7 linked regions of the Homo sapiens genome follow. The protein of the gene in region 1 purifies or fractionates together with the protein of each later gene. This does not show direct contact. Each region holds a gene or a part of one and is shown in the gene's direction. Other genes may lie near its edges.

Region 1 (3,500 bases):
GGGAACAAATTCAGAGGATCTTAGGTGCTGGCTTGTGGAGACAAAAGGAGGGAAATGGGTAGAGCCTGTTTGTCTTGCTTCCCCAGAGATAGAATGTGAAGACACGCGCTAGAAATCGCAGTCCTGGCCAGAGACGTTATGGTCATTGTGAGGGACTGGTGGCATTGTTCCTTTTTGAGGGGCTGGGGGGACTCAAATTGGTGGCTGTTTTCACACAGATGTGTTGGTTTGTGGTCCAACTTCTTTATCTGAAAAAGCCAGTGAGAAAACATTTTTGATTTGATTTTTCTAAACTATCTACCATATTTTAAGTGTAGCAGCTTTGACTTTGCAATAACGTGGCAAGTATCTGATTTCTCCTTTGAGGCAGAGGTTTAAGTGTAGGCCTGTTACACTTGTTTGATACCTTTTTCATGACAGTCTCAGTATAGATCAGTTGGTACAGAAATACATGAACACATTTTGATAGGGCTTATTTCACACAAAGAAGTTTATGGTTATTTGTGTGGGGTGGTGTTGTTATATATTATTGTCTTTAAGGGAAAAGAAGCTATAAGATTCGCTGACAGCCAAAGTATCATTTAGAAAAGTGAAGCAACAAGATTTAGGTTGATGAAAGATACATGAGTTTGCATTTTGACCTGTTCAGTGTCTGTCTTCCAGCACGGTGTGTACACTTCTTCAAAATTGTACACAGTTTGCTAATTAGAAATATCTTGGAAAGCCTCATGGTCACTAATTTTCAACTAGCATCAGGTATTTTGAAAACGTGTGTCTGGATATTAACTCTTGTTTAAACTGAATGTATGATATTTTGTTAGAATGGAAAAGTACTATCTTGTTAATTTAAGTATTTTAAATATAGTTGTATATTTTTCTTACTCTTAGTCACCTGTAATTGAAATATTTCTGTTTTGCGTCATACACGAAGCTAGTGAAAAAGAAAGTGCAAGGCATTTTCAGATGAGCAAGTGACTATCGTGGCTGTTGCCAGCAGGGCAGTATTGTTAAAAAAAATCAAAATAAACCCTCCCAAGCATTTTGGGATTTTATGGATTAGAAATGGAAGAACAGGAGAAGCATATGCAAAGTGAAATTGCACGAGGGGAATTTTCTGAGGTATCTTCCTAGGCAGAGCCGAAATCTCCTACTCCAAAATGCCCTTTCTCATACCACCGGAATTGTTGAGTTTGCTGAACTGCCTGGAATTCAGCCCATGAAAATCACTGGAGTTAGGAAACATCTTCCCTTTAAAATGCTTCTGGTGTGGTTAAAGGAACTAGCAACCACTCATGTATAATTACTGTGACTGAATTCAGTCAGGCTGGTTTTTTTTGTTTGTTTGTTTGTTTTTGAGATGGAGTCTCAATCTGTCACCCAGGCTGGAGTGCAGTGGCGCAATCTCAGCTCACTGCAACCTCCACCTTCCAGGTTCAAGCGATTCTCCTGCCTCAGCCTCCCATGTAGCTGGGATTATAGGTGCCCGCCACCATGCCTGGCTAATTTTTGTATTTTTAGTGGAGACGGGGTTTCACTACGTTGGCCAGGCTGGTCTCAAACTCCCAACCTCAACTGATCTGCCGGCCTCAGCCTCCCAAAGTGCTGGGATTACAGGCATGAGCCACCACACCCGGCTCAGTCTGGCTGTTTTCTTCTCTACCTCTAAGACAACTGCCATGAAGATCTGGTATTTCGGCCTGGCGCAGTGGCTCATGCCTGTAATTCCAGAACTTTGGGGGGCCAAGGTGGGTGGATTACCTGGGGTCAGGAGTTCAAGACCAGCCTGGCCAACATGGTGAAACCCTGTCTCTACTAAAAATCAGCTTCGCATGGTGGTGGGCACCTGTAGTCCCAGCTACTCGGGAGGCTGAGGCAGGAGAATCACTTGAACCCTGGAGGCGGAGGTTGTAGTGAGCCAAGATCAGGCCACTGCACTCCAGCCTGGGTGACAGAAGGAGACTCTGTCTCAAAAAAAAAACAAAAAGAAAAAGATCTGGTATTTCATGGAGACATGGAGACCCAAGGGTGTTTGGCAGATGGAGAGAAGAGGCTTGCAGTGTGTGACCACAGGGTGTTCAACACACTAGGAGGGTGGGGTGTGGGCTGGGGAGGTCTCGTGTAGGGCACTGGTGATGAGGAGGGAGCTGTGTACGAGGGGCGAGCCAGCCCTGCCTGTTTTACTCTTGTCTTGAGCTGGCTTTATGCCCAGGAAGTGGGTGGCAACATCTCCTCTTACTCCCCAGATTGTGGGGAGAACTCTAAGAGCTGTAGTTCCACTGGATGATGAGTTAAATCACTCTGGAGGCCTTAGCTGGCTGGTGAGCTCTTTTTCTGTGGGGAAAATGCCACTTGTGAATTGAACAGCCATCCTTTAAGTGAATATTCGGCAGTCAGTCTTCATTATAGGCAGTGGCCAACCAGATTGGTGCTTTTCAGCCTTTGTTCCCTGGAGTCCCAGGACCCGCGAGAGAAGTTCCTGGCTCCTCTACTTGCAGTCACCCTCCACAGCTTCATCTTTCTTTTTATTTGAGGTTTTCTCCTGAATTGTGTTTGAAAAATATATTGCTGCTAAAAAAAAAAAACCTTTGTAAACCTCTACTATGGACATACATAAATAATAGTTTAATATGGATTTCTTAGAAATTAATGGAAACTGCTTGCCTCAGTAGTAATCCAGGTTTAATTGTGGACGTGTGTTCACATATGAAGTTGCTTGATGATGCTTTTTGACAGGATTCTTTATTTTTATTTCTTTAAAAAAAATTTTTTTTTTTTTCTGAGACAGATTCTCACTCTGTCACCCAGGCTAGAGTGCAGTGGTACAATCTCAACTCACTGCAGCCTCTGCCTCCCAGGTTCAGGCAATTCTCCTGCCTCAGCCTCCCAAGTAGCTGGGATTACAGGTGCCCGCCACCACACCTGGCTAATTTTTGTATTTTTAGTAGAGATGGAGTTTCACCATGTTGGCCAGGCTGATCTTGAACTCCTTGACAGGATACTTTACAAGAGTGATTGTTAAAACTCTCCCAGACACAACTCAACACCTACCCCTATTATAATATTTTATAGCATCACTTTTCAATCTTCAAATGAAAATCATGGATGATGAAGCTTACCTTCACTCATAAAAACATCACTCCATTTACTATTCTGAAATGAAACTAGCAGGTAATATAACTAGCCTCTAAAACATACCCATCAGTGACGTTCTAACTGAAACAGATAAGATATTTTATAATGAAATAATTATTTTCATATGTACATATTCTAGCATGGTTATATTACAAGATGTAATTAAACTACTAAGCAGGGCACATACTTTGTATGTGTGTGTATAAATATAAATATGTGAAAAATCACCATGAATGTGGTAGTTACCAATTCAGACCTGCTGCATTGGCAGTTCAATACCAGGAAAGGGGTCGATGTCAGCAGTATGATTTTCTAAAATGTGGCCAATTCTTTAGATAAAGTTCTAGGCATACCTAGTCTGTAATGGC
Region 2 (3,401 bases), on another chromosome or scaffold:
GCTATAGAAGAGATAGAAATATATTCATATTCTGTAGCTTTTTTTTTTTTGAGATGGAGTTTTGCTCTTGTCACCCAAGCTGGAGTGCAGTGATGCAATCTCAGCTCACTGCAAACTTTGCCTCCTGGGTTCAAGGGATTCTCCTGCCTCAGCCTCCCGATAACTGGGACTACAGGCTACAGGCATGTGTCACTACTCCTGGTTAATTTTTTTTTTTTTTTTAAGACTGAGTCTTGCTCTGTCTTTCAGGCTGATGTACAATGGCTCCATCTCGGCTCACTACAACTTCTGTCCCCCAGGTTCAAGCGATTCTCCTGCCTCAGCCTCATGAGTAGCTGGGATTACAGGCATGTGCCAGCACACCCAGCAAATTTTTGTATTTTTAGTAGAGATGAGGTCTTACCATGTTGGCCAGGCTGGTCTCAAACTCCTGACCTCAGGTGATCCTTTGGCCTCAGCCTCCCTAACTGCTGGGATTACAGGCATGAGCCACTGCGTCCAGCCTAATTTTATATTTTTGGTAGAGATGGGGTTTCACCATATTGGCCAGGCTGGTCTCGAACTCATGACCTAAGGTGATCCATCCTCCTCAGCCTCTCAAAGTGCTGGGATTACAAGTGTGAGCCACTGGGCCTGGTGCTTTTTTTTTTTTTTTTTTTTTTTTTTTTGAGATAGGGTCTCACTCTGTCACCCAGGCTGAAATGCAGTAGTGTGATTTTGGCTCATTGCAGCCTTGACTTCCCAGGCTGAAGTGATCCTCCCACCTCAGCCTCCTGAGTAGCTGGGGCTACAGGCATGCACCACCATGCTGCGCTAATTTTTATATTTTTTGTAGTGGTGGGATTTCGCCATATCACCCTGGCTGGTCTGGAACCCCTGGGCTCAAGCGATCCACTCGCTTCAGCTTCTCAAAGTGCTGGGATTACAGGCATGAGCCACAGCGCCCAGGCTGTAGCTCTCTTAAGGAGGAACATATCTCATCTGAGACAAACCTGAAATGCCAAACCAAACTGAGTTAGCCCCTCTCTGTCTGTTGTATATATTGGAGTAATAACCTATTTGTCTTGATAAAGGGATTGCATGCTTGAATTGCAAAAACCTTTATTTCTTTTGGGTTGCCCAATGTGCAAGACTAAGAGTTATTTTGATAAATTTCTCACCAGGCTGACTGTCTCTCTGTGGGGTCGGGGGAGTTTTCAGGGTCTCACGTATTGCAGGGAAGGTTTGGTTGTGAGATCGAGAATAACAGAAGCAGCGGAGCATTCTGGAAATATTACTATGATGGAAAGGACTACATTGAATTCAACAAAGAAATCCCAGCCTGGGTCCCCTTCGACCCAGCAGCCCAGATAACCAAGCAGAAGTGGGAGGCAGAACCAGTCTACGTGCAGCGGGCCAAGGCTTACCTGGAGGAGGAGTGCCCTGCGACTCTGCGGAAATACCTGAAATACAGCAAAAATATCCTGGACCGGCAAGGTACTCACTGCTTCCTGCTCCCCAGTACTGAGCCCAGAATAAAAGACGATCTCAGGCTAGGAGCTCAGGCAACATCTTAGTCCGGTCTCATCTGTTCCTGGATGTCCCTCAGACCCCCAGCTTTCATCTTTTAGGATTTATTCCTTCCCTGGGATAATATAATTTGTGGTCCAAAAAGAACATCATCAAAATTTCAGGCAGAATGGGCCAGGAAGGCCATTCTTTCTTGATGAGTGTCCCCAAATCATCTCCAATTAACAGACAAGGAGCTTGAGGTTAGGGAGGTGAGGGTAACACTGTCTGTAAGAGGCAGAGCTGGGACTCAAATTCCAGATTTCAGATTCCAAATCCCATCGTTTTTTATCTCTACAATGATGCCTCCCATCTGGGTGGTGGAGAGAAGGGAGGCGTGTAAAATGTCAGCCCCAGAAGGACAAGAGCAAGCCAGTGTGAGCGGAATTGATGGCTGCAAGCTGAGACTTGGATTGGAGACGTAGTGAGACTCAGGATTGTGCAGTGCTGCAGGGAAGTGGTTGCTGGATAGAGGCATGGGCTGAACCAAGCAGCTGGACTGAGACTGGGGGACAGAACTCCAAAGCCCACTGAGATGTGGGAAAACATGGAGAAGCACACGGAGCATTCACAACTTATTGCCGTCAGAGTCAATACATGGGTGAGGTGGGGATTGGGCAAGAGGGAAAGCGTCAGCCTTCCCTGATATTCTGGAAAGTCTCCCGGGGCTGGGGGTGGGCAGGTACAGAGCTTCGAGCTCTGCTGATCGCTGACATCCAGGGGTGGGGGTAGGAAGAGACCTGGGCCGGGAGAAGTCCACCTCAAGCCTGCAGTGTCACACTCTATCCCTCCACAGATCCTCCCTCTGTGGTGGTCACCAGCCACCAGGCCCCAGGAGAAAAGAAGAAACTGAAGTGCCTGGCCTACGACTTCTACCCAGGGAAAATTGATGTGCACTGGACTCGGGCCGGCGAGGTGCAGGAGCCTGAGTTACGGGGAGATGTTCTTCACAATGGAAATGGCACTTACCAGTCCTGGGTGGTGGTGGCAGTGCCCCCGCAGGACACAGCCCCCTACTCCTGCCACGTGCAGCACAGCAGCCTGGCCCAGCCCCTCGTGGTGCCCTGGGAGGCCAGCTAGGAAGCAAGGGTTGGAGGCAATGTGGGATCTCAGACCCAGTAGCTGCCCTTCCTGCCTGATGTGGGAGCTGAACCACAGAAATCACAGTCAATGGATCCACAAGGCCTGAGGAGCAGTGTGGGGGGACAGACAGGAGGTGGATTTGGAGACCGAAGACTGGGATGCCTGTCTTGAGTAGACTTGGACCCAAAAAATCATCTCACCTTGAGCCCACCCCCACCCCATTGTCTAATCTGTAGAAGCTAATAAATAATCATCCCTCCTTGCCTAGCATAACAGAGAATCCTTTTTTTAACGGTGATGCGCTGTAGAAATGTGACTAGATTTTCTCATTGGTTCTGCCCTCAAGCACTGAATTCATCTGAAACTCTTGGTTTCCCCTGGAGGCCATGGTTCCTGGGCACCTTGACCTGGGCAATCCCAAGTGTGGCCTGAACCCCCTTTCCCTTGGGGATTGTTCAGGTGTCCCTAGACGCCTTGTGGTATTGTACCTAATACCCATGAAGGGAGAGGATGATATTACTTGCCAGTGTACACCCCCCTGTGATATTGTTCATAATGTCCAGAGTGAAGAAAGATGATATTACTCCCAATATCACAGAAGGTGTACACCCCCCCTTGATATTGTTCCTAATACCCAGTTGGGGAGGGGAGAATATCTCTCCCAATATACAAGGGGTGTTTAAACTCTCTGTGATATTGTTCCTAATATTCAGGGGGGACAAGGATGATATTACCCAAATATTGCAGGGGTTGTACACCCCCCCTTTGAT
Region 3 (3,500 bases), on another chromosome or scaffold:
TTCCTTAGTAAGGATTTTGATGCCCGAAAGGCCTACCTGGCTGGCTCCATCAAAGGTAAGAAGGGAAAAAACAGGCCAGGGACGGTGGCTCACGCCTGTAATCCCAACACTTTGGGAGGCCAAGGCGGGTGGATCACGAGGTCAGGAGATCGAGACCATCCTGGTTAACATGGTGAAACCTCGTCTCCACTAAAAATACAAAAAATTAGCCGGGCGTGGTGGCACCCGCCTGTGATCCCAGCTACTCGGGAGGCTGAGGCAGGAGAATCAGTTGAACCTGGAAGGCGGAGGTTGCAGTGAGCCGAGATTGTGCCACTGCACTCCGGCCTGGGCAACAGACGAGACTCCGTCTCAAAAAAAAAACAAAAAACAAAAAAAAGAAGGTAAAAACAAAACCCTTCCAACAACAAAATCCCCAAGCCAAAAACAGTCTCATTAGATCCTATTGTGCCTAATAGAATAATTACATAATTAGATTATCTAATTAGAATTATCTAGTTATTAGATAATTCTAATCCTTCCATACGTTATTTTCATTTACATATTTTTCATATCATTTGTACACAAGAGGGTGCCTTTAACCCCCGTATTTCCTTATTGAGTTAGAATTCTCTCAGAGGAAAACAGGTTTTTGTGGTGTTTGTTTCCATATTATTCTATTGGCTATTTTAGAAATATTTTCTCGCTGGTGGGCTGAATTTTGTGCCTCGAGGTCTTCATGGATTACATTTCTTTTCTTAGATCTTAGCAGTTATCTCTGTCATCTGAAGAGCCCAAGGCCTTGACCACAAACTCCTAATTTAAGTTCCAGCTGGAAAATCCAAAATGCAGACAGCTCAGGCCTAAGCCACAGACTTCAGGGTCCCTGAGCAGGAGGCGAGGGGAACTCTGAAGGCGAGGCTGCCCTCTGTCATGTCCTCCCATGGTGCCCATCTGTCTTTCCTTTTGATCCCGCTGTTCTTTGAATTTTCTCAGCATCCCTGTTGAGGTGGTAGGTGTTTGTCAGGCTAACTTAAGGACTTAAGTAATTATACTGGGGGACATGGGGGAGTTAATAGACTTTTTTTTTTCCTTTTGAGACAGGGTCTTGCTTTGTTACTGAGGCTGAAGTGCAGTGGTACAATTACGGCTCACTGTAGCCTTAACTTCCTGGGCTCAAGCAATCCTTCCACCTCAGCCTCCCGAGTAGCTGGGACTACAGGTGCACACCACCATGCCCAGCTAATTTTTTTTTTTTTTTTTTTTTTTGAGTCAAGAGTCTCACTGTGTCACCCAGGCTGGAGTGCAGTGGCACAATCTCAGCTCACTGCAACCTTTGCCTCCCAGGTTCAAGTGATTCTCGTGCCTCAGCCTCCCAAGTAGCTGGGACTACAGGCACCTGCCACCACACCCAGCTAATTTTTTTTTTTTTTTTCTTTGAGATGGAGTTTTGCTCCAACAAGTGTTGCCTAGGCTGGGTGGCGCGATCTTGGCTCACCGCATCCTCCGCCTCCTGGGTTCAAGTGCCTCAGCCTCCCAAGTAGCTGGGATTACAGGCATGTGCCACCACGCCTGCCTAATTGTGTATTTTTAGTACAGATGGGGTTTCTCCATGTTGGTCAGGCTGGTCTCGAACTCCTGACCTCAGGTGATCCGTCTGCCTCGGCCTCCCAAAGTGCTAGGATTCCAGGCATGAGCTTCCGCGCCCGGCCGCTAATTTTTGTATTTTTAGTAGAGATGGGGTTTCACCATTTTGGCCAGGCTGGTCTCGAACTCCTGACCTCAGGTTATCCACCCGCCTCGGCCTCCCAAAGTGCTGGAATTACAGGTGTGAACCACTGTGCCCAGCCTAATTTTGTATTTTTGGTAGAGATGGGGTTGCACCATGGTGGCCAGGCTGGTGTCAAACTCCTGACCTCAGATGACCTGCCTGCTTAGGCCTCCCAAAGCGCTGGGATTACAGTGTGAGACACTGTGCCCAGCCCCAGCTAATTTTTAAACATTTTTTAGAGACAGTCTCCCTGTGTTGCCCAGGCTGGTCTCAAACTCCTGGGCTCAAGTGATCCTCCCACCTTGGCCTCCCAAAGTGTTGGTATTACAGACATGAGTCACCCTGCACCTGGCAGACATTTTTTTTTTTTTTTTTAAATCAGGAAGTTTTAATGATACAGAAAGATGCTGGTTCCCTTCACATCAGTTGTTTCAGTTTTTTGTGAGTCTAGCTTCCTCTATGCATCCCATCATAGAGTCCCTTGCGGGGCAGAGCACACGTCCTGGGAAGCTGACATAGGATAGATCTACTCTTCCACCAAATAAAGTGTTTGTATGCTTTACAACATTTGCCTAAATTCTCTGTATTAAAAATAATTTTGTACGTCAGGTGCTGTGACTCACACCTGTAATCCCAACACTTTGGGAGGCTGAGGTGGGTGGATCACTTGAGGTCAGGAGTTCGAGATTAGCCTGGCCAACATGGTGAAACCCCGTCTCTACTAAAAATACAAATATTAGCCAGGTGTGGTGGTGTGTGCCTGTAATCCCAGCTACTCGGGAAGCTGAAGCAGGAGAATCGCTTGAGCCCAGGAGGCAGAGGTTGCGGTGAGCAACTATCTTGCCACTGCATTCCAGCCTGGGTGACAGAGTGAGACTCGGTCTCAAAAAAAAAAGAAAAAAGAAAAAAAGAAAAAAAAATCTTTATTTCTTTGCATGATGTGTAATGCAGTAACATTACAATTTCTCTTTTTTGAAGACATTGTATCTCAGTTTGGAATGGAAACTGTTATCTTACACACAGCACTGATGCTAAAGAAAAGAATTGTGGTGTATCACCCCAAGATAGAAGCGGTCCAGGAGTTCACCAGGTATCACCTCTAATTATAAAAAAGTGTTAACTTTGTTGGCAGACAGTTCGCAGCACTAGATGTTACTGTGTGCTCTGCTGTGTTGCACATTTGCTATAAATAGCATGTGGTGAAATACCACCTTTGGTCTGAAGTTTCTGTTTAGCTCTAGTAGTTCAAGGTTACTGATTTGGACTATTTATGACTATTTTAGAGCAGGGGATTAGCAAACTTTTCCTTGCCAGACAGTAAATATTTTAGGTTTGTGAGCCATATGGTCACTGCCCCAACTACTCAACTGCCTAGGTAGCACAAAAGCAACCATGGAGGACACGTACATAAATGACTCAGCATGGCTGTGGTCAATGAAATTTTATTTTCAAGGACAGGCAGCTAGGCTGTGGGCCATAGTTTGCTGACCCGTTTCAGGTAAATTGTTCCTTCTGTTCAGTTTTATCAAAGACTCTTTTTTTTTTCTTGTTTTAATTAAAAAGTTTTAGAGCAGGACAAAGACTCTTACTTTGATAGTACATATAGATTTTTTAAATTTTATTTTCATTTTTAGTAGAGATGGGGTCTTGCTGTGTTGCCCAGGGTGGTCTCAAACTCATAGGCTCCAGTGATCCTCATGCCTTGGCCTCCCAAAGTGCTGGAATTACGGGTGTGAGCCACTGTGCCCGG
Region 4 (3,027 bases), on another chromosome or scaffold:
TTACAGGCATGCACCACCACGCCTGGCTAATTTTGTATTTTTAGTAGAGACAGGGTTTCACTGTGTTGCCCAGGATGATCTCGAACTCCTGATCTCAGGTGATCCGCCTGCCTCAGCCTCCCAAAGTGCTGGGATTACAGGTGTGAGCCACTGCGTCCGGACCTCTCTGCCTTTCTTCTGTGTCTCTTCCCATCTCTCTGTGCTGTCTTCATCTGGCTTTTCTCTGTTCCGTCCCTGCCTTTTGCTCTCCTTCCTTTCCCTCTGCCTCTCTCCTTTAAGTCTCTGTGTGTTTTGCTGATTCTCTTTCTCCCTCTGAGTCTCTCTGAACCTCGCTTCCTCTCTCTCTCCTCCCTCTCTCCGAGTCTCTCTGTGCCCGTGCTTCCCGCTTCCTCTCTCTCTCCTCCCTTTTTCTCTTTCAGTCCCTGCTTCTGCCTTGGCTCAGTTTGTTGTTTGTTTGTTTGTTTGTTTCTGAGAAGGAGTCTCGCTCTGTCATCCAGTCTGGAGTGCAGTGGCACGATCTCAGCTCACTGCAACCTCCACCTCCCAGGTTCAAGTGATCCTCCCGCCTCAGCCTCCCGAGTAGCTGGGACTACAGGCGCACACCACCAAGCCCAGCTAATTTTTATACTTTTAGTAGAAACGGGGTTTCACCATGTTGTCCAGGCTGGTCTTGAACTCCTGACCTCAAGTGATCTGCCCGCCTCGGCCTCCCAAAGTGCTGGGATCACAGGCATGAGCCATGGCACCAGCCTTGCCTTGGCTCTTGATGCCTCTGTTGGCCTCAGCTCAGCCCCTCTTTCCTCTCCCCAGGCCGGGCACTGCTGCGGCTGAATGCGGAGAAGCTGCAGCGGATGGGGCTGGCCCAGGAGGCCCAGAGGCAGGAGGTGCTGCAGCAGGTGCTCCGCCTGCAGGTGCGTGAGGAGGGGCGGAGCCTGCAGCTGCTCAGCCAAGGTCAGTGTGAGGTGCCAGAGAGGCCTGGGGGCTGATGGAGAAGCCCCTCTGAGTGTGGGGTGGGATGACCTCAGGAGGTCGGCTGCAGGCCCCAGTAAGCGCCCTAATGCAGATGATGCCAAAGACCCCACCCCATTCTCACCCTCTTCCATCACACAGCTTCCTTCGGGAAAATGTCCTAGCTGCTGCTGAGGCTTGAACCCAGACCCCAGCACTGTGATGGGAGTCCACGGCTAGGGAGGAGGCCAAGCTGGCCCCGCAGCGCCTCTTGGACCCTGCGGGATGCCGGGGCGGCCAGGCTGGCCCAACGGACAGACAGGACCAGGATCACACCTCCAGGCGCCTCTGGTTGGACATTCCAGGTCGTGCCCTGGGGCTGGGTGGGTAGGGGGCTGCTTGAGTGTGGCCCCACCTCCTGGGACCTGAGCCCAAGCCCTCCCCTGGTGCAGCTGGCAGCATGTGGGGCAGCTGCCTGGAGCCAGAACCGGTTTGGATGTCCCCCCTAGACTCCCAGGGAGTCTGTTTATTTACATTCCCCTCTCCACGTGATGTCGGTCCCCCATCGCCTGCTGAGTCACTTGTCTGTCCACCCACCCAGCCCAGTTCTAGGTCGTTCCCCAGCACCTCCAGGTTGGCCCACACAGGTACCATAAGCTGCCTCGGCTCCCTGTGGCTTGTGCCCATGCACCTGCCAGGGCCCAGCAGGCCAACCCATCATCTAGAGTAGTGGCCATCAGCACCCGCCTAACGGGCACCATGCCAAGCACTTTCATCATTATTTATACATCGTCACCACACCCCCTCTATTCATGAGAAGTAAAGCTGAGAAAGGACCAGATTGACCAAGCGCCAGAGACAAAATGTGGCACAACGAGAACCCCAGCCCTGTCCAGGTGGCTCCGCGCCCAGGGCCCAGGCTTAGCAGTGCTCCCTGCCCTATCTTTGGGAAAATCTTGCTTTTATGGTCTTCCCCCCTCGCCCTCAAGAACAAGGGCCTTGTGCGTGGGCCTTCCCATTGCTGCTTTCCCAAGAAGGCCTGGATTCAGGGGAGAGGCCTTCCCAGGGCCACTCCCCTTACACCCTCCCAGAGGCCTGAGCAACCCCTCTCTGGGTGGTTTGGGGCTGGTGCTGCCTGGCGGAAGGACAGTGAGGGCGGCCCTAGCCGCCTCCACCCTCTTGCGCCTCTGCCCTCTCCCAGTCCCCCTGTGGCTTCTGAAAATCTCAGGGACAGATGAGGCTGAGCCCCTAGTCCCCTCTGTGTGCTTTGAGCCTCCAGACTCGAGGCTGGTCACTGCAGGTCCCAGGTGGAATTTGGACAACTGGCCTGGCCGCTCCCATCCTGTAAGCCCCCACCACGGGGAGACCCTCATCCCTGCCCCTGTGTGGCTGCGCAAGTATTCTGCCCGCCTCCCACCATCAGCCTTCGCCCAAGGGGCCCTTCTGCCTCTGCTTCCCTCCCTTCTCCTCTGTCTTGCCCTGGCCCACGCACGCCTGTCTCGTCTTCCTTGTTTTGCTGCACTCACTTTTTTATACTCTGACAAAAAAAAAAAATCAGAAATAAAGCTGGTTCCCAAGTGCTGGCGGTGCTGGGTCTGCGAGGAGAGGGCGTCTGGGCAGCCGCGGCCACCAGGGGGCAGTGGCGTCACGCCCTGGAGGGGCGTCTGGGCAACCCCGCGCAGAGGCTGGAAACAGGGCTCAAGTCACGCCTGTGGGCGGTCCCCAGTGCTGGACACAACGCCCGACACGCTGGAAGGGACGGCCCAGACAGCGCGTGAGGGTCCCGCGGCTGCCGTGACAGAGGACCACGGAGGGGTGCTGAGAACAGCAGACATTCATTCTCTCTGGAGTTCTGGAGGCCGCAGTCCAAAATCCAGCTCCCTCAGGGCCTCCTGGGGCGACTCCTCACCTCTCCAGCTTCCAGTGGCTGCCGGGGGAACTCGGGCGCATGGGCATTACCCGTCTCCGCCTCTGTAATCAGATCACCTCCTCCTCTTCTGTCTCTCAAATCTCCCTCTGTCTCTCTCTTATAAGGATGCTTGGATTTGGGGCCACCTGGGTAATACAGGATAATCTCCT
Region 5 (3,500 bases), about 26 Mb from region 1:
CTCATTGTATTAGTTCATTCTCACACTGCTAATAAAAACATACCTGAGACTGGGTAATTTATAAAGGAAAGAGTTTTAATTGACTCACAGTTCCACAGGGCTGGGGAGGCCTCAGGATCCCTGCAATTATGGCCGAAGGGGAAGCAAACCCGTCCTTCTTCTCATGGTGGCAGGAAGGGGAAGGAGTGCCAAGCAAAGGGGGAAGCCCCTTATAAAACCACCAGATGTCATGAGAACTCACTCACTATCTGGAGAACAGCATGGGGGAAACTGCCTGCATGATTCAATTATCTCCACCTGGTCCTGCCCTTGACATGTGGGGATTATTACAATTCTAGGTGAGATTTGGGTGGGGACACAGAGCCAAACAATATGACTCATGAACCTTCCTGCCTTTCTTAGGAGACACTCATCCCAGCTGCACGTGTAACTTGGTAAGGTTTTGAGGTCATTTAGAAGTAGCCAGGTAAATTATTATTGTCATCTACTCAGATTTATCCTGCAGTCTTCAGCCAACGCTGAATGCCATGGTTGGTAGCATTTCCCAAATGGTGGTAGCATCAGTGAAGTCCAAGAACCAGTTCCTGTGCTGATGTTAAGATTCTTGAAGGACTTAAATAGTAGTATGATACAAATGAGTTACAAGATCATTGAAAATTTTTGTCAGCATTAGGGAACTCTATAATCTACTAATTATTATTATTATTATTGCAAATAATTAGTTTAAATCAAATGGCAATTGTCCAGTCCAGATAAATATTGTTTTTACTACTTCTCCCTTTGGAAAGAGATAATATATTGTGTTCTAATCAAGGAGGACTTGGTTAACAAGGAGCTATCTCCCCGCTTATGTGGGGACAGGAAATATATTGCTGTTATGCTTTGGTGCTTCAGGATCTTAAATGGTTGAGACTGTCATTATGACCTTTGATATATGTTAGAAATGCCCAGGAAGCTGTGGAAGGTGGATTGTCTGCAAGATGTGCAGAATATCCTGGTAGTGTCCACATAATGTAAAAGCACAAGTGTTTGAGCTACTTGTGGTTTTTCTTATTTGGAGTGGAGAAGAGTAAAACAATTTTACTTGCACGCACACACACTATACACATACCCAGATGATTGATAGACATACCAGGGGTTTTGTGCTTACTTTGCCTTCAGCCTCTCAGAGACTGATTACGTTTGGAAAATTGAAATAGCCCAACAGGAACCTTACAGAGGATGTTAACCTCAGAAGCTTTTTAGTTTCTTCTTTTGTATTTGTCCTGTATTTACGTCTTTCAGTAAAGTAAAAACTCAGTTATTGACTTGAATTGCTTTGGAAGCATTGAAGTCTTCCACCAAATTGATTCATTACTGTACTAATTCAGTTCATTCCAGTGGTCTGAATCTCCTATTCCATGGTTTAATCATCACTCTGGCTCCTTCTGCATATGAAGCTATTGCATCTTACTGGTCCTACATTGAAGTGTATTGTATCTGTTTGTACAACCGATCATACATTTTAAGTTTTTATATTTCTCCATCTACCTTGTTTCTTCACAGAGCTACAGGCAACCAGCTGCTTTCATCGTCACACAATACCCTCTGCCAAACACTGTAAAAGACTTCTGGAGATTAGTGTATGATTATGGCTGTACCTCCATTGTGATGTTAAACGAAGTCGACTTGTCCCAGGTTAATGGCTATGGATTGCTTTTATGTACTTATATACAACTTAATAGAGTAGTAATGAATTGCTAAAATCTGCTTTATACTCTCCTAACTAGAAAAAATAATACTCTTTTTTTTTTTCTTTCAAAACGTTCATCATTTAGGGCTGCCCTCAGTACTGGCCAGAGGAAGGGATGCTACGATATGGCCCCATCCAAGTGGAATGTATGTCTTGTTCAATGGACTGTGATGTGATCAACCGGATTTTTAGGATATGCAATCTAACAAGAGTAAGTCACTATCGGATCCTTTGAGCTGATCTAGAATAGGTCAGTCATAACCAAGATGTGGTATAATTTTATTCAGACAACAGGGAGACTACAATTAATAAGCACTATATCATCCACCTCAAAGCTAGTAACCATCTTATGCCTTAGTACTCGAATAAAAATACAGGAAAACAGAAATGCTGGAAGCTAGGTTTTTCGGTCAGTCACTAGACTAGCATATTCTCTCAGGAAATACAGATGCACTGGCTCAGTCAAGTTGGACAGCCTAGGCCTGGCCTCTGAGTGTATGTAGACTTATCTTAAGGATGACTGCATGTTTTATTAGTATTGACATCCAGCCCAGAAATGGCATGTGATAAAAAAAATAAGAACATTGCAATAACAATAATGACAGAGAAACTGTACTGCAGGAGGAAAGAGACATGTTGGATCAACCATTATAGAAGGGTTCCATGTCACTGTTCCAAGTTCATTATTGATTATCCTACCTGCAATTTCATCTTCCTAAACGTCTCAACCTATGGCTCTAAGCAGATCTAAAGGTAGAACCAGTGCTGCTACCACCATGCCTTTTCCCAGCAGCAAAGTAGTAACTGTATCGTCTTTCTCTGACTCCTCATTTGCTTTCCACTACATGACAAATTCAATGTGGGTGGGGAAGATCTTAAAAAAAAAAGTGCTAATAAAGCCCGGGCACAGTGCCTCATGCCTGTAATTCCAGCACTTTGGGAGGCCAAGGCGGGCAGATCATAAGGTCAGGAGTTCAAGACCAGCCTGGCAACGTGGTGAAACCCCATCTCTACTAAAAATACAAAAATTAGCTGGACATGGTGGTGGCATGCCTGTAGTCCCAGCTAGTGGGGAGGCTGAGGCAGCAGAATCATTTGAACCCGGGAGGCAGAAGTTGTAGTGAGCTGAGATCACGCCACTGCACCCCAGGCTGTATAGAGCGAGACTTCGTCCCCCAAAAAAAGATATTAATAAAAACAATTTAGATTATGTAACCAAATAACAAGCAGAATTGGAAAAGAAAACATTAGTAACTTTCATGAAATTAAGCTCTTTTTAGAGAGAAACATTACTCTGTTTTTTAAAGCACCAGCTCTGTGGGTATGTATTTTAAGTGTGTGATTAGGATTATCATGTTTCAGTGTCTCTCATATCAAAATGACTACGTGTGTGTCTGGTTAATAAGTCTATATGTATATAACTATGAGCAGGGAATGGAATCATATCGACTCCTATTGCTCATTTCAGTGGAGAAAAAAAGGATAACTTCAATCATCTCATAATATTCATGCATATCTTAGATGTTAATTTAAATGGAATCTCATTATGTCTGCACATCTGTTACATTATGGTTCTAGTAATATTTGAGTTGGAAAAAAACAGAACTGCTGAAGACAGTAAGGCTTGTCTGTTAATTGAGCAGTTTATGTGAAAAATATTCTAGGAACAGGAACTGAAATGTTATATTTTTGTCAGCATATTTATTTATTTGTTTGCTTACTTATTGAACTGCCTCTGTATTTGGTATTCTGGTCCTTATTAGTACAT
Region 6 (4,219 bases), on another chromosome or scaffold:
AGCCGCCATGTTCTCAGCTCACTGTAACCTTGGCCTCCCGGGTTCAAGCGACGTTCCTACCTCAGCTCCCCCAGGTAGCTGGGATTACAGGCATGTGCCACTACTCCCGGCTAATTTTTGTGTTTTTAGTAGAGACGGGGTTTCGCCATGTTGGCCAGGCTGGTCTCGAACTCTTGACCTCAGGTGATCCGCCCACCTTGGCCTCCCAAAGTGCTGGGATCATAGGTGTGAGCCACTGCACCTAGCCTTGGACCCTCTTCATATTAAATTAAAATTAATGTTTTTGGAACACCTATTAGGCCACAGAGTGAGGAGGATGAGTTAAAGTAAGTTCCCTCCTTGTAAGTAGTTAGAAGTATAGAAAGAAAGAAGTGGACCTGCTCTCTATTGTCTTTTTCTTTTCTTTAGACGGAGTGTTTGCTCTCTTGCCCGGGCTGGAGTGCAATGACGCGATCTCAGCTTACTGTAACCTCTGCCTCCTGGGTTCAAGTGATTCTCCTGCCTCAGCCTCTTGAGTAGCTAGGAGTACAGGCATCCGCCACCACGCCCGGCTAATTTTTGTATTTTTATTGGAGACGGGGTTTCACCATGTTGGCCAGGCTGGCCTAGTACTCTTTTTTTTTTTTTTTTGAGTCGGAGTCTCGCGCTCACGCTCAGGCTGGAGTGCAGTGGCGTGATCTTGGCTCACTGCAAGCTCCGCCTCCCGGGTTCACGCCATTCTCCTGCCTCAGCCTCCCGAGTAGCTGGGACTACAGGCGCCCGCCACCACGCCCGGCTAATTTTTTGTACTTTTAGTAGAGACGGGGTTTCACCGTGTCAGCCAGGATGGTCTCGATCTCCTGACTTCGTGATCCACCCGTCTCGGCCTCCCAAAGTGCTGGGATTACAGGCGTGAGCCACCGCGCCCGGTCGGCTAGCCTGGTACTCTTAACCTCAGGTGATCCACCAGCCTCAGCCTCCCAAAGTGCTAGGATTACAGGCGAGAGCCACCGCGCCTGTCTTTTTAAAAGCTAAAACTGAAACGGAAACAGAGCTCCTGGCAGATAGGACCAGGAGCCACAGCGAAGGAGGTGGCCTGTGATTAGGTTTTTATAAATGGGCAGGTATTAATCAGGGAAAATGGAGTAAAGGACACGATAGACATACATTGCTAAGTCTAGTATTGGAAAAAGTAAGGCCTGGGACCCCTAAAAACTTGCTCGAGAGTGAAAGGTAAATGCTATGTGTCCACACTACTGTGGTAAAGCCGACAGTCCATACCATGAGCCCATTTCGCGCAGGGAAATTCGAGTGGTGGGCTTGGGCCCGTCGTTCTGGTAGCTTCCCAGTAGAGGGCGCCGTAAGCATATGCGTCTTCAGCCTGACTGGGCTGGAGAGGCGGTGCGTCCTCCTGGCCGGGGGGCGGGGGCCGTCGCGCTCACGTGACCTTTGCTCATGGCGGCGGCGGCGGCGGCGGCGGTGCTGGTGGTGCTCGGCGGCCGGAGCCGGATCCTGTAGCCGGGTGTGGGCCCGTGTCTGTCCGTCCCTCCTTCGGCCCCCTCTCTTGTCTTCCGGAGTGTGGCTGGCGGAGCTGGGATGGCGGAACGAGGCCTGGAGCCGTCGCCGGCCGCGGTGGCGGCGCTGCCGCCTGAAGTGCGGGCGCAGCTGGCGGAGCTGGAGCTGGAGCTCTCGGAGGGTAGGAGCCGGGCCGGGGAGAGGGCGCCCGGGGCCCTGCGGATCGCGGCGACTTGGGAGACAGGTCCCCGCCGCGCGCTCTGGCGGCCGTGCGGCGAGGGGGACGAGGGTGTAGAGAACCTGGCCTGGCGCTCCACGACCGTTTTCCCTCCTCTCCCACCCCATTAAGTGGTTTCCTGTGGCTTTCATTGTTTTCCCATGGAGGGGACTAAGTAAGGGCTTGTGGAAAGGTCCTCCCGGGCCCACACTGCTTCTGCGCTTCCTGCCCCCCAAAACCCGAGACAAAGCTGCGCCCTCCCGCTTCTGCCCAGGCGTCTGGCCCAGGTGGGGTGAGGGGTAGGGCTGCGAGGAGGGTGGCTGACAGCTTTCTCCTTTCCTCTCCCCTTTTCGTGGAGGGCTCCACGCCTTGTTCCAGCCCCCCCTTCCCCCTTTCAAAAAGAGACACATGGGAAATCCGCAGCATCATTTCTTCTCTTTCCTTTAACAATGCGCGATGCCTCCCCAGTGACAGGAGTGAGACACAAGCGGGTGAGCCATTTAGGGTCCTAGGAAGATAAGAAGCAATGGCATTAACCCAGAGAGACACACGGTGCTGCTTTTAGACCACCTTTGTCATAAGAAGTTTTTTTTTTTCCTGGTGCCTGTTATTCGGGCCGAATTTTCCGCATCTGGTCACCTTTTGGAGTCTTTGATGAAGGAAGGAGAGGAGGCTACCGTTTACTTGCAAATCCTGGCTGGCATTCTTTCTTTTGACAATGGATTGGGACAGGGAGGGTTCGATTTATTTTCAGAATTAAAAAAAAAAAATGGGATAAATCAAGCCACTGTTATTAGAGAACTCCTTGTACAACAATGAGAGAAACACAGTGCTCCGTTGTGGGCATGTGATCAGGCTTCTGGGGCAGTTGTGATCAGTTCTGTGTAAAGTTCCTGTTTTTATCACTGGCTGCCCCTGAGACAAAAGCAGCATTTTCTCCAAGCTTGATACCAGTACTTTGATTGTGTCTCCAGAGTTGCATATTCTTACTGAGTTCCTTGTGGAAGGCCCTCTTCACTAGCATTTTTCAAGTGGATCAAAAACTCTTGATTGGAAAAGAAGAATGTGACCAACTCCCAGGAGCTTATTAAACATTACTTATTGTTTACTTATTAAGGCATTATGGTTCCCTCCCCTCTGAGAATCCTTTACAATGAAAAACCAAAAATAGAGTTGAATGTTATAAATCCTGTTGGGCACTGAAGGAAATAATTATTTTTAATAACCCTTTTAATAACCCAATGTGTAGGAAAGTGCTGTTTTTACCTGTACTTAACTATCAACATGTTATTTTTCAATTAATCCAATTTTCAAGTTATTCTTCGGCCAGTCCCGGGAATCACTGGTATTAGATTAGTTTGTTTCTGTGAAGTGTTTAAGAAGATAGGAATCCTCTGGGTTTGTCTGCCCAGTTATACCTTAAGTTCCCCCCGCTTCGAAAATCGAGGAGCTTTTTGCATTACCATCAATTCTGTCTCTCAAGATAACTCATTCTTCTCCTAGACTAAAGCATTGACATTAAATCTGTGTTGACTTGCATTAAAATCTGACTTTTAAAACTGCTATTTGAAAGTAACAAATCATCTAGCTTTGATTAGAGAGAGGTTTGCCTGGATGCTTGCGTCAGAGGGAGATTAAAAATAGGAGTTGATTGCTTTCACACGGAGAGGGAAATCCTGGAAGCTCCTTATTCTGGGTATATCTGCTTCCAGCTGATTGTTGTTTACATCTCTGGGTGTTTCTAGACATCTCTAGAATGTCTAGAAACATTCTGAGGAACTATTTCTAGGACCCACACTGATTAGCTCACCTCTCTCTCCTTCAGAAAGGTGTGAAACTTCTACAAATTGTGAATGCCAAGGCTTAAACATTTTAAGGACAAGTGCATGGTTTGCTTTCCAATGAAGGATTATTTTGGTTGGCATCTGACTTGGTTTGAATTTGTTTCTTATAGATATACTACACTTCTTGTATTTCATTTGTTTTAGCAATGGATGACTGGAAAAAATACAATTGAAAAACTTGGGCCTGCAGTGTCAGCATATTGGTCATCTTTCTTGCTTAAAGTACAGGGGATGGTTGGCTGGAGAAGTGGATAGACATTAGGAATTCAAGTGAAGTTAAAATAATCCAAAAGTCCCCATATCTGTGTAGTATGGTGTTATTTGTGATGCCTGTAGCATATTTGGAGCTAAGGTTTGTTCGTTTTGCATTTTCTCTACAGTTACTCTGCTCTAACATAAGTACTTTGTCTTTTTTTGTTTTAGATGCTTTTCTTTCGTTTGTTTTTTTTGAGATGGAGTCTCACACTGTTGCCCGATTTTAGCTTACCGCAACCTCCGCCTCCCAGGGTCAAGCAGTTCTCCTGCCTCAGCCTCCCCAGTAGCTGGGATTACAGGCAAGCGCCACTACTGCCGGGCTAATTTTTTTTGTATTTATAGTAGAGACCGGGTTTCACCGTGTTGGCCAGGCTGATCTTAAACTCCTGACCTCAAATGATCCACCAAC
Region 7 (2,862 bases), on another chromosome or scaffold:
CTTCTGGAAGCCTGTGGCTCCCACGCTGTCCTCGGGCCATGCTGTCTCTGCCGTGTTCCATCTTCTCCCGAGTGACACTGCCCATTCCGTGCAGCCGTCTGTCCTTCCCCCGCTGCTGCTCCCCTGCACCACTGGCTGGGCTGTCCTCATCCTGGTCTTTTCAGTTGCTTGTCACATCTTTTTAAATCCTCCAACTCACTTCCTTTCTTTGAGGGTCCTTGTTCTCTGTCATCCTTCCTGTGCCTTCCATTCAGTTCACCTCAAGCTTCCAGTGTCTGAGTGTCATTCCAGCCAGCGGGCTCCATGCTGGGCAACTCAGTTTTCTCATGCCACAGCTTTTTACATTTCTGTGTATCAGCAAATTCCAAATTTGGGTGTCCTGGTTTTGTAACATGTAAGGACAAGGAGCTCAACATTCTTTAAAAACAAAGTAGCTTGAGAATAAGGATTCTAGGTGATTTGCACATGGTTGAGTGTGTCTTGCATCACCTGCTCGCAGAACATTAGGATGCCTGAAACACAAAACCACCAGTACATTCTGATTCTACCTTTTTAAAATGCTGCTGCAATTGAACAGTCATTAAAGAAAACCAGACCCAAATTAAAATTTCTGCCTGCAGCATTTTTGCCATGTTGTGGGAGTTTGTTTAAGCTACTCCCAGTCAATTTCAAATAAACAGTAGCAGAGTTCGTTTAAGACGACTGCCATTGCTAACACAGCTGAATGAAATCAGAGGTCTCTTTGTGGGCTCCCAGTAGATCCAGGCCCTGTAGGACCAGTTCACTTGTCCACTGTAGCTAAATAGATCATACAAAAGGGCCAAATGAACAGATCTACCAGATAGGAATATGATGAAGTGGCCTGTGGAGACCGCTGCCACAGTCACTGTGTCATGCCTTCTGTATACCCCAGCCCAATTCTAAAGGAGCTTTGCAAGCTGACTCATCTCACAGTATTGCTGTGTTTAATCATAATTGGTCTCTTCCCATTCATGTCACTGATCATTTGTGTTGAATTCTTTATTATTTTAAGTTATTCTGCATGAGCATAGAAAGTAGTTAATATTCACGAGTTGCCTGTGGTGTATACTTCATCTCACTTGAGTCTGTTGAGAAGTGTGTTTGGGGGAATCATCCACTGGTGACACTGCCGGTCTGAGTAACCCTGTCTCCCTTTCTCGGCTCTGAAGGAACTACCTTGTTCTGCACTAGCTCCATCCCTAGAGCCCTGCTTCTCCAGGCCCGAGAGACCAGCAAACCGTCGCCCTCCGTCCCGTTGGGCCCCACATTCCCCCACTGCCTCACAGCCTCAGTCACCCGGAGACCCGACGTCCTTGGAGGAGCATGGTGGCGAGGAGCCGCCCGAGGAGCAGCCACACCGAGATGCAAGCTTGCATGGATTATCACAGTATAATTCACTGTAATTTGCATAACCACACCATCACCATGAACAAAACTCTGCCCAACAGGAGAGATCTAGTTTTCTCAAGGTCAAAGAATGTTTTTTAAAAACACAAAGCTGCTGAATGTTCAACCTGTGAAACTGAGATGTTTCTAGAATGAAACAGTAAATGTGCCTGTAATAACTTAATTTTTTTCATAGCTCAGAAAACTATTTTTGTCTCCATCTTTTTTACACACAGTATATTAAACGAAAAGGTAAATAAGGTATAAATAGATTTAAAAAATAAAAGTTTTAAAAAATGTACATTTTAAGAGATTCTGAACACCCTCGCTGTCAATACCTGACTGCCTCTGTTAAATTTGCACTGTTACATTTTGGTTCAGTTTATTTCCATGTTGAATTAGAGTGGATTAAGTTAATTTTATTTTGTCAGTGTTACTGTTTTTTACGAATTTTTTAATGCTTCAGACTGTCTGATTCAGTGAACTTTTTGTAGTGAAAAAGCCATGAAGCCAGTAGACAAGACAGATATTCTGTATGCTGGAGGGGATACAGGATGATTTTGAAAAGGTACAAAGTCCTCAGTGGGCTTAGAAAATTCACTGTATGATCCTTATATTATCCTACTTGGCTTGCACGTCTTCGGGTGCATGTATATACCGCTACTGTGTCCTCGCCATCACCTAAATGTGACTCAGTCTGTTCCACTGTAATATGTTGTGAATTTCCTTGTACTGTACTTTTATTGTTGGTCTTCTTGCATCGATGATCCAACAGCAACACCATTTTTAAATTATTGTGAAAAGATTAACTGGCAATGTACAGAGTTTACTCAAAGTTTTCTTAAGGGAAAACACTACAAAAAGTCACAAGGATACCAAATGGAAACACATGATGATGCCTCTGGGTCTGTATGAGACCGTGATGAAGTAGAAATAAAGCCCTTCTGAGATGGCAGCATGTCTCGGTCTCTCATTTCACACACCCTCCATCTTTTCCTAAGGACTCAGATGGAAAGTTTTCCATAGCTAGGGGAATGAGGGAGAGAGGAGATCATGTAAAGAGGCAACAGCTGCTAATATATCTTGCTGGGAATGCACTCTTTGGGTACGTGATCATGTTGCAGTTTTACTGTTCCCCGTAAGAGAGTCCTAGGATAGAGAGACAGCTTTATTGTTGAAAAGCCAAAACTGTGGTGTGGGCAGGGATGTGAGGAAACTGGTTACCTACAAGTCAGAGTGTGCCCGGCCTCTCTGCCCGCTCTGCTCATTAGGAGAGAGGGAGTGGCCAATAACTCTAGAAGAGGCCTTTCCATCTCTGATCCTGAGATGAGCCCGCCTCTCAGTGTTTGGTGGAGTAGAAAGAAGTGATGCTACTGAAGAGCCCAAAAAGAATGATTTCAGGCTGAAGCTTCTGGCTTTAGTATTTCATTTAGTGCTTCATTAACCCAACAATTT

What was found.
Region 2: the proteins of CNKSR3 (region 1) and AZGP1 purify together in Homo sapiens (co-immunoprecipitation; one large-scale study listed by IntAct). This does not show direct contact.
Region 3: the proteins of CNKSR3 (region 1) and DENND10 purify together in Homo sapiens (affinity purification with mass spectrometry; one large-scale study listed by BioGRID and IntAct). This does not show direct contact.
Region 4: the proteins of CNKSR3 (region 1) and SAMD10 purify together in Homo sapiens (co-immunoprecipitation; 2 studies listed by BioGRID and IntAct, with this or other methods). This does not show direct contact.
Region 5: the proteins of CNKSR3 (region 1) and PTPRK purify together in Homo sapiens (co-immunoprecipitation; one large-scale study listed by IntAct). This does not show direct contact.
Region 6: the proteins of CNKSR3 (region 1) and DIP2B purify together in Homo sapiens (affinity purification with mass spectrometry; 2 studies listed by BioGRID and IntAct, with this or other methods). This does not show direct contact.
Region 7: the proteins of CNKSR3 (region 1) and MTCL1 purify together in Homo sapiens (co-immunoprecipitation; one large-scale study listed by IntAct). This does not show direct contact.

The regions. Positions count from the first base shown.
Region 1 is NC_000006.12:154,402,686-154,406,185, reverse strand, and holds part of CNKSR3 (connector enhancer of kinase suppressor of ras 3), read left to right. Parts: 3' UTR 1-3,500. UniProt on the Homo sapiens protein: Involved in transepithelial sodium transport. Regulates aldosterone-induced and epithelial sodium channel (ENaC)-mediated sodium transport through regulation of ENaC cell surface expression.
Region 2 is NC_000007.14:99,966,230-99,969,630, reverse strand, and holds the end of AZGP1 (zinc-alpha-2-glycoprotein precursor), read left to right. Parts: intron 1-1,200; coding exon 1,201-1,476; intron 1,477-2,344; coding exon 2,345-2,628; 3' UTR 2,629-2,901; downstream 2,902-3,401. UniProt on the Homo sapiens protein: Stimulates lipid degradation in adipocytes and causes the extensive fat losses associated with some advanced cancers. May bind polyunsaturated fatty acids.
Region 3 is NC_000010.11:119,117,613-119,121,112, forward strand, and holds part of DENND10 (DENN domain-containing protein 10), read left to right. Parts: coding exon 1-55; intron 56-2,728; coding exon 2,729-2,840; intron 2,841-3,500. UniProt on the Homo sapiens protein: Guanine nucleotide exchange factor (GEF) regulating homeostasis of late endocytic pathway, including endosomal positioning, maturation and secretion, possibly through activating Rab proteins such as RAB27A and RAB27B.
Region 4 is NC_000020.11:63,973,616-63,976,642, reverse strand, and holds the end of SAMD10 (sterile alpha motif domain-containing protein 10), read left to right. Parts: intron 1-810; coding exon 811-951; intron 952-1,110; coding exon 1,111-1,133; 3' UTR 1,134-2,527; downstream 2,528-3,027.
Region 5 is NC_000006.12:127,975,100-127,978,599, reverse strand, and holds part of PTPRK (receptor-type tyrosine-protein phosphatase kappa isoform b precursor), read left to right. Parts: intron 1-1,545; coding exon 1,546-1,677; intron 1,678-1,817; coding exon 1,818-1,943; intron 1,944-3,500. UniProt on the Homo sapiens protein: Regulation of processes involving cell contact and adhesion such as growth control, tumor invasion, and metastasis. Negative regulator of EGFR signaling pathway. Forms complexes with beta-catenin and gamma-catenin/plakoglobin.
Region 6 is NC_000012.12:50,503,566-50,507,784, forward strand, and holds the start of DIP2B (disco-interacting protein 2 homolog B), read left to right. Parts: upstream 1-1,419; 5' UTR 1,420-1,575; coding exon 1,576-1,675; intron 1,676-4,219. UniProt on the Homo sapiens protein: Negatively regulates axonal outgrowth and is essential for normal synaptic transmission. Not required for regulation of axon polarity. Promotes acetylation of alpha-tubulin.
Region 7 is NC_000018.10:8,830,417-8,833,278, forward strand, and holds the end of MTCL1 (microtubule cross-linking factor 1), read left to right. Parts: intron 1-1,190; coding exon 1,191-1,424; 3' UTR 1,425-2,362; downstream 2,363-2,862. UniProt on the Homo sapiens protein: Microtubule-associated factor involved in the late phase of epithelial polarization and microtubule dynamics regulation.